Linked DNA regions of Homo sapiens. The protein of the gene in region 1 interacts with the protein of each later gene in a pairwise test. Each region holds a gene or a part of one and is shown in the gene's direction. Other genes may lie near its edges.

Region 1 (5,456 bases):
AGGGTCTCACTCTGTTGCCCAGGCTGGAGTGTAGTGGCATGATCACAGCTCACTGCAGCCTCAACTTCCCAGGCTCAAGCGATCATCCCACCTCAGCCTCCTGAGTAGCGGGGACTACAGGTGCCCATCAACACACCTGGCTCCTGGCTATTTTTTGTAGTTTTTCATAGAGACAGGGTTTTGCCATGTTGCCCAGGTTGGTCTTGAATTCCTGATCCTTCTGCCTCAGCCCCGCAAAGTGCTGGGATTTACAGGAGTGAGCCACCGCACCCAGCCTCATTCTCAGATATTTGCTGTTGTTGAGCTTCTTGTTTTTGCCAAATATGCTTGCATTTGGCTTTCTTGAGTTTTGCTCCAAGGTTTTTGAGCCAAACCTACAGTACTTTTGGATCTATTTCCATTTTGGAGACCATATCTTTCTGAAGGCTGGGGTTTGGGTATACGTTCTTATTGAACAAGTTCAGATCTTCCAGTTGTTTCTCAGTGAACGTAGTTTGTTTCTTTTGTGAAGGCCTCTGGGGCTTGCCTTTGGGAAGATCCTCTGAGCCTAATCTAGATGTGTTCGTATGTTCAGGTCCAGTTATCTTAGGTATATACTGGGGAGTAGAATTACTAGATCATATGGTAACTCTATGTTTAACTCTTTGAGGAACTCCCAAAGTCTTCCAAGGCAGCTGCAGCACCTTAATTTCTACCAGCAGTGTATTAGAGTTCCAGTTTTTCCTTGTCCTTGTTGGTATCTTTTTTGATTCCAGCCATCCTAGTGGGTATGACTTTGTGTCTCACTGTGGTTTTGAGATGCATTTCCTTCGTGACTGATGTTGAGCAGTGTTTCTTGTGCTTATTGGGCGTTTGTATATTTTCTTTTCTTTCTTTTTTTTTTTAAGATGGAGTCTCGCTCTGTCGCCCAGGCTGGCGTGCAGTGGTGCAATCTTGGCTCACTGCAAGCTCTGCCTCCGGGGTTCACGCCATTCTCCTGCCTCAGCCTCCCTAGTAGCTGGGACTACAGGTGCCTTTGCCGGGTGCCTTACATCCTTTGCCCATTTTTAAATTGGATTGTCTTTTTATTGTTGAGTTGTAGGAGTTCTTATATGATTTGCCAATACTTTCTCCTATTTTTCTGTGTTGTCTTTGCATTTTCTTGATATCTTTTGAAGCACAAGAATGTTTGATGAAGTTCAATTTATCTATTTCTTCTTTTGTTGCTTCTGTTTTTGGTGTCTTATCTAAGAAGTCATTGGTTGATCAAAAGTCATGACAATTTATGCCTGTGTTTTCCTTCTCTGAATTTTGTAGTTTTAGCTCTTATATTGAGGTCTTTGATCCAGTTTGAGTTAATTTTTGTACGTGGTTTGCATGATGTGAGGAAGAGGTTTATCCTCATTCTTTTTTTTTTTTTTTTTTTTTTTTTTTTTGAGACGGAGTCTTGCTCTGTCGCCCAGGCTGGACTGCAATGGCGCAATCTCAGCTCACCACAACCTCCACCTCTCAGGTGGGATTGCAGGCGTGAGCCTCCGAGCCTGGCCAGTTTCTCCTTTTTCTAAAAGAGGTCTTTAACGCTTCTCTATCTGTGGTTTTTTTCTTTTTCTGTATCAATTTAATGCAAATCTGAGTCTTTTAAAGTTTAATAGGTTTTTTTTGAGACTGTCGCCAGGCTGGAGTGCCCAGGCTGGAGTGCCAGGCTGGAGTGTTGGCTCACTGCAACCTCTGCCTCCTGAGTTGAAGCAATTCTCCTAGCTTCAGCCTCCTGAGTAGCTGGGATTACAGGTGCCTGCTCCCACCTAGCTAAATTTTGTATTTTTTTTTTTGAGACAGTTTCGCTCTCATTGCCCAGGCTGGAGTGCAATGGTGCGATCTCGGCTCACTGCAACCTCTGCCTCCCGGGTTCAAGTGGTTCTTCTGCCTTAGCCTCCTGAGTAGCTGGGATTACAGGCACCCGCCAGCACGCCCAGCTAATTTTTTGTATTTTTTAGTAGAGACAAGGTTTCACTATGTTGGCCAAGCTGGTCTCGAGCTCCTGACCTCAGGCAGTCCACCTGCCTTGGCCTCCCAAAGGGCTGTGGTTACAGGCGTGAGACACCGCGCCCAGCCAATTTTTGTATTTTTAGTAGAGATGGGGTTTCACCATGTTGGTCAGGCTGGTCTCAAACTCCTGGTGGTCTACCTGCCTCGGCCTCCCAAAGTGTTGGGATTACAGGCATGAGCCACCATGCCCAGCCTATGTTCATTCTTTTACACGTCAGTATGTAGTTGTACCAGTACCATTCGTTGAAAAGACTATTATTTCCTTATTGAGTTGTCTTGGCACCCTTGTCCAAATTCAGTTGTCCATGAATCTGTTTATTTCTATACTGTCAGCTCTGTTCTCTTGGTCTATATGTGTTAGTCTGTTTTCACACTGCTAGAAAGAACTGCCCAAGACTGGGTAATTTTTAAAGGAAAGAGGTTTAATTGACTCACAGTTCTTCATGGCTGGAGAAGCCTCAGGAAATTTACCATCATGGCAGAAGGCAAAGGGGGAAGCAAGGTATGTCTTACATGGTGGCAGGTGAGAGACAGAGACAGAGAGGAAACTACCAAACACTTTATTGATTGATTGATTGAGACAGAGTCTTGCTCTTTCACCCAGGCTGGAGTGCAATGGCATGATCTCGGCTTACTGCAACCTCCAACTCCTGGGTTTAAGCGATTCTCCTGCCTCAGCCTCCTGAATAGCTGGGATTATAGGCACCCACAACAACGCCTGGCTAATTTTTGTGTTTTTAGTAGAGACGGGGTTTTACCATGTTGCCCAGGCTAGTCATGAACTCCTGAGCTCAGGTGATTTGCCCACCTTGGCCTCCCAAAATGCTGGGATTACAGGTATGAACCACCGCGCCCAGCCCAAACACTTCAAAAGTATCAGATCTCATGAGAACTCACTATCACGAGAACAGCATGGGGGAAACTGCCCCCAGGATCCTGTCACCTCCCACCAGGTCCGTCCCTTGACACATGGGGATTACAGTTCGAGATGAAATTTGGGTGGGGACCCAGCCAAACCATATCTCTATATGTCTATGCTTATGCCAGTTGGACGATGACTTTTGAAACCCAAGTTGCTTGGATGAGCAAGGACCCTGGGGGCAGAAGTGGCGTGTCTTGCAGGAATACCCCTTTCCTCTGTAGGTTCAGGATTTATCCCACACTTGGCCTGGAAGTTCACTATTATCTAGTCTGTTCTTCCAGACTTTTAAGGTAATGCTTTATTCATTTATTTTATCTAGCATTTAAAAAATAGTTTTTAGGAGGAGTTAGTTCTAAAATCCTAGCCCACCAATATCTAAAATAGAATTCAAGCCCAGTGTGGTGGCCCGAGCCTGTTGTCCCAGCTACTCGGGAGGCTGAGGCGGGAGAATTACTCAAGGCCAGGAGTTCAAGACCAGCCTGGGTGATAGAGCGAGTACTCATCTCAAAAAATAAATAAATACAAATAAATAAAAATGGAATAAAAAATTATTTATCTATAATTATGAAATTCGGGGCAGTGTGTCCCTGAGAAGGTATCTTTAGGAAGTAGAGCAATCGTTCATGGCATCTTAGAAAAAGACTGTGCTGCTCACTGCTGCTTTTAAAGCCACATTTGTGACAGCTAATAAAAGCAGCTGTCGGTAATTGAGTACTTTATTCCAGTCAATCTAAGCTTTTTACTGGGGGCATTACGTATACTCTTTGATCTCATGAACACAACCAACCTTTAAATTATATTTATTTATTTATGTTTTTGAGATGGAGTCTTGCTCTGTCACCCAGGCTGGAGTGCAGTGGCACGATCTCAGCTCACTGCAACCTCTGCCTCTTGGGTTCAAGCGATTCTCCTGCCTCAGCCCCCCGAGTAGCTGGGACTACAGGTGTGCGACACCACGCCCGGCTAATTTTTGTATTTTTAGTAGAGTATTCTTGTTTTACAAATTAGGATGCTGTGAGGGTCGGAAGCTTGCCCGAGGACAGACAGTGATGATTAGTTGCCTTTGACTCGGCCTCAGACCCCTGACTGCAGCGCCGGGCTCTTCACCTCACAGGCTGTCTTCTCCATGGGAACCCTCAGAGAGAGCATGGGTGTTCCAGGCCCCAGTGTCACGGTCTTCTGTAGTAAGAACTGGAAGGCTAAGCCGGGTGTTTTGCCTGCTCTCTTTCTCCCTGTCCCCCTTGTGGTAGGAACGTGAACCTCCTTACAGGGAGGAACTGTCTGGAGAGTCTTTTTGGATTGTTCTCACAGTTCGAGTGCAGGAACCCCAGGGGAAGCATGTTTTAAATCCTGATTCCTGGACTTCAACTCCAGAAAGTCCAGTGCACCAGATAGGGAGGGAGTTGTGCTCGGGACTCTGAAGGTCTCATGTGCTCCCTGGGAGGTCAGTTGCACTTGGTCTCGGACCACACTTTGAGAAAAGCGGGTCCACAGGTTACATTGAAAGTAACTGGGTATTGTGGACTTCTTGTTCTCTCCTCTTCTCTGTTTTTAAAGGGCAGCATGGTGTTTTTCCAGTGTCTGGGGAATGTCCCTTTATCTTTTAATTCCTTAAAAAGGTGGAGACTTCAGTTACTTTTAAATGAGAGAGTTATATTTAGTGTTTCGTAAGCACTGTTGTCAGGTAGAGATGAGAATGCTGAATTCAAAACAACTCTGATATTAGTAAAATGTAATATCCAGTAATTTGTTATTAATGACTGTAATTTAGTGGTAGGAGCCTCAAGGGAAAAATAAAGTATGTGGTTATTTTAGAGAAGAAAAATCTCAACCTGTCTTTTCCCACCTCCTCCCTCTCCTGCTTTTTCTCAGATTGTCAAGTGGTCAGACTGTTGTTTGCCATTAGCTTGCAGACCTGGGGATCCTTATCGGCTAATTGCTGAAGCAAGTGTGGACAACTTCAGCAAGCTGGGGGTGGCGTTCATGGAAGATAGACTCCACATGGATAATGGACTGGTACCCCAAAAGATTGTGTGTAAGTAACTTTAGAAAATGTTTTTATTGGCCAGGCATAGTGGCTCATGCCTGTAATCCCAGCACTTTGGAAGGCCGAGGCAGGAGGATCGCTTGGAGCCCAGGAGTTCGAGACCAGCCTGAGCAGCATAGACCCCTATCTCCAAAAAAACAAACAAACAAAAAAATTAGCTGGGTGTGGTGGTGCATGCCTGTGGTCCCGGCTACTTGGGAGGCTGAGATGGGAGGATCACTTGAGCTGGGAGGTTGAGGCCACAGTGAGCCATGATCACGCCACTGCATTCCCATGTGGGTGACAAAGTGAGACCCTGTTTTTATCATAGTGGGACACTATAAGTTATTAGCTTAAGGACTGTTGAGCACTCTTACTGGTATGACATAAAGGCTATGCTTGGTTTCAGTTTAATTCAGTCCACAGGTTTGATTTTACTGTAATAATATACAATTCATGCATGTGTCAAGATTTTTTTGGGGG
Region 2 (3,500 bases), on another chromosome or scaffold:
TCTTTTACTTTTTAAAAATATATTTTAGAAATTGCTTCCCAAGAAGAAGGTGCTACTATACAGTGGATGTCATCTGTAGAAGCAAAGATTGAAGACAAAAAAGTTCAGAGAGAAAGTAAACTAACTTCCGGAAAGTTGGAGAATCTCAGAAAAGAAAAGGTTAGAAAAATATTTTGGGGCCAAAAGTATATATATTTTCTGACCTAGTGACTTATTCGCTGGATTTGGGTTATTCTGTTGTTAATGTGAATATAGTTTTGTTAAGATAGAAGGTTAATTACATTCATTTAGATTTTACTTTAATGAAAACTTAAAGCAAAGTAGGCATTTGTGCTGTGGGTGAACATTTTAAAGTTTAAATTGCTGATACATATATAAAATTCTTGACCTGCTCAAGTTTCAAGATTGATAGTATGTTTAGAATTAAATTTTTAAAATTTCGTAACTGCTTTCGATAAACAAACAAAATTTGGCTCCCTTTCTTCTCTGTTGAGCTCACCGGTTTAGAAGGATTTCCTCTGACACAGATTAGAGGGTTAGAATTCTTAAGAAAGGTATTTTATGACTTGGGAATAAGAGGAGTAGGATATGGAAGAAACAACAAATATACCTTTTTTGTGTCTGCTGTACACCTGCCGTATTCCTGATGGAGAGGTGTATTCAGCTCACTTCAGGGATTACTATGGCAATGCTTCAGTAACCCAGAAACCAGAATTTGGCTGTCTCTGGTCCAGAGAATGGGGAAACAAACCAAATCAACACTACTAGACTCCACTTTTTGGCACTCAGTTTTAATAATCAGAGTTTTAGGGTAAATCATCAAAAAGCAATGATACTTGTATGTTAACCACCATATTAAAATAGTAGATGGGTTCAATGCCTGCCTTCTAAGAAGTTTATTTAAGGTTAGAAGTTATGACTATGACAATAACACATTAATATGAAGAAAGCATAGACATTTTATGAAGGTTTTCTATGAAAGGGCATGAAATGTACCTAATATCTGTGATGTTTTGATTCTTGGATTTAACCAAAAAGTTTCATATGCTGCTAAAGGTTATCCCAGAAACTGTTAATGTTGCTTTATAACATCTGAGAATGTATTTATTTGGCCATATCCATGGTGGCCTCTTTACTTCACTTTTCAGATAAACTTCTTGCGGAATAAACACAAAATTCACGTCCAAGGAACCGATCTTCCTGACCCAATTGCTACATTTCAGCAACTTGACCAGGAATATAAAATCAATTCTCGACTACTTCAGAACATTCTAGATGCAGGTTTCCAAATGCCTACGCCAATCCAAATGCAAGCCATCCCAGTTATGCTGCATGTGAGTATGAAGATCTAGAATGCCTGTAACATTCCTTCCTCTGTGTGTTTGCTCATTCTCTTCCCTCTCTTCTTGAACTCTTTCTTTCCACCTTATCTCCCCTGTTAAAATCCTTCACTTCCTTTTAAGGTTCATCAAATGCCTGTGCCTCCATAAAAGTTGTCTTGATCACTCCATCTAGATGTGATCTTCTTCCTTTTCTAGTACCCTTTCCCCCACACTGCAGTTCTTCCATGGTATTTGGTGTGTTCTTTTCCTTGCAACATTTATTTTACATTTTAAACTACTTTGTATTCGCACCAATCATATTTATCTTTTTCATTTTACTAGTGTGTAACCCCTTGGAGAATGGGGATTATGTTCTATTCATTCATACATTCATTATTTAGTTTATAATGCCCAGGAACTACTCCAGAAATACAAATGCTTTCTAAAGTTCTTGTACATAAACTGACTTATTTTTCCGAATACTTTTTATTATTAAAGTATACTTTACATACAATAAAATGCATAGATTTTTAAGTGCCCAGTTTAGTGAGTTTCAGCAATGCATGCCCTGTGTAACCACTATTCCAGTGAAGATAGAGAACATATGTATTACCCCAGACAATTTTCTTGTGCCCTTTCCATTCAGTCCTCACCCTGCCCCTGCTCAGAGGCAACTGCTATTCTGATTTCTACTGCTGTATATTCCTTTTGCCTCTTCTAGAGTTTTATATGAGTGGAATCACACATTAATCTTTTATTTCTGGTTTCTTTCACTTTGCGTAATGCTTTGAGATTCTTCTGTATTACATAGAGCAATAGTTTGTTACCAAGTAGTATTATGTTGTATGAATATACCACAATTTGTTATCCAGTCACTTGTTGATAGAGGTATGGATTAACTTAGGTTTTCGGACGTTAAGTTTTTCTGAGGTTTGTTTCTGTAGCAATAAGAGTTGGGTTTTTTCCCCATGTAACCGAGATGGCCTTCAGTTCTGGTTTCCAAAGGATATAAGATACCTTTTCATCTCTATACTAGTCCTTTTCATTTTCTTTGAGAGATGAAATGAGAATACATTCATACATTTAAATGATGCTGTTGACTTATGTTATAGTAAATTTGCTTTTAATTTTTGTTTAAGATTGTTTCTGTCATGGCTTTAGCTTAAAGCTTAAAAAATCACAGTGGGCCAGGTGCGGTGGCTCACGCCTCTAATCCCAGCACTTTGGGAGACCGAGGCGGGCAGATAACGAGGTCAGGAGTTCAAGACCAGCCTGGCCAATATGGTGAAACCCTGTCTCTACTAAAAATACAAAAACTAGCTGGGCATGGTGGCGTGTGCCTGTAATCCCAGCTACTCGGGAGGCCAAGGCAGAAGAACCACTTGAACCCGGGAGGCGGAGGTTGCAGTGAGCCGAGATCTCGCCACTGCACTCCAGCCTGGGTGACAGAGTGAGACTCTGTGTCAAAAAAAAAAAAAAAAAAAACACAGTGAGTTTTTGAAAATTGTCTCCTGTAAATTACTCTGCCCTCAGGTCATTGCCATTTTTTATTTCTTCAGCCATTTTGTTGTTCAATAAAACCTTCCCTAGTGATTGAACAATACAGATACCAGGACAAAAAGTTGGTTTTATAATTTTATTTTGACAATAGTTTAGTGGAAAAGAAAAATTGAAATAATGGATATAACTTAGGTTATGGATTATCTTTGGGTTTTAGTTACCCGTATTCTTTACACTCATTCAAAGGGAATTTAAGGGCAATGCTCAGAAACTTTGTTGGGGTGATGGTGGCATGGATGGATGATGTTAGGAAAGCAGATATGACTTGAAAGATTAGATTCATTATGTAAAATTGTATTTGTTTTTTTCTATGGCTGGTAGCGTTATTTGACCAGGCTCTGAAAAATTTATGTACTTTCTTTGTAGTATTTAATATACCCTATGTTTTTAGGGTCGGGAACTTCTGGCTTCTGCTCCAACTGGATCTGGAAAAACATTAGCTTTTAGCATTCCTATTTTAATGCAGCTGAAACAACCCGCAAATAAAGGCTTCAGAGCCCTGATTATATCACCAACACGAGAACTTGCCAGCCAGGTATGACTTGTAGCTTTTGAAGAGTATGCGATTGGTTTTTACTTCAGTGATCTTTCTTATTTGAAGGTAATAAAAAGATCTTA

The links. Proteins that work in one complex are often made in the same cells at the same time.
Region 2: the proteins of HLCS (region 1) and DDX52 interact in a two-hybrid assay, tested with the Homo sapiens proteins (one large-scale study listed by BioGRID and IntAct).

Annotation. Positions count from the first base shown.
Region 1 is NC_000021.9:36,938,358-36,943,813, reverse strand, and holds part of HLCS (biotin--protein ligase), read left to right. Parts: intron 1-4,819; coding exon 4,820-4,982; intron 4,983-5,456. UniProt on the Homo sapiens protein: Biotin--protein ligase catalyzing the biotinylation of the 4 biotin-dependent carboxylases acetyl-CoA-carboxylase, pyruvate carboxylase, propionyl-CoA carboxylase, and methylcrotonyl-CoA carboxylase.
Region 2 is NC_000017.11:37,629,947-37,633,446, reverse strand, and holds part of DDX52 (probable ATP-dependent RNA helicase DDX52), read left to right. Parts: intron 1-28; coding exon 29-159; intron 160-1,148; coding exon 1,149-1,334; intron 1,335-3,273; coding exon 3,274-3,417; exon of another isoform or gene 3,418-3,500.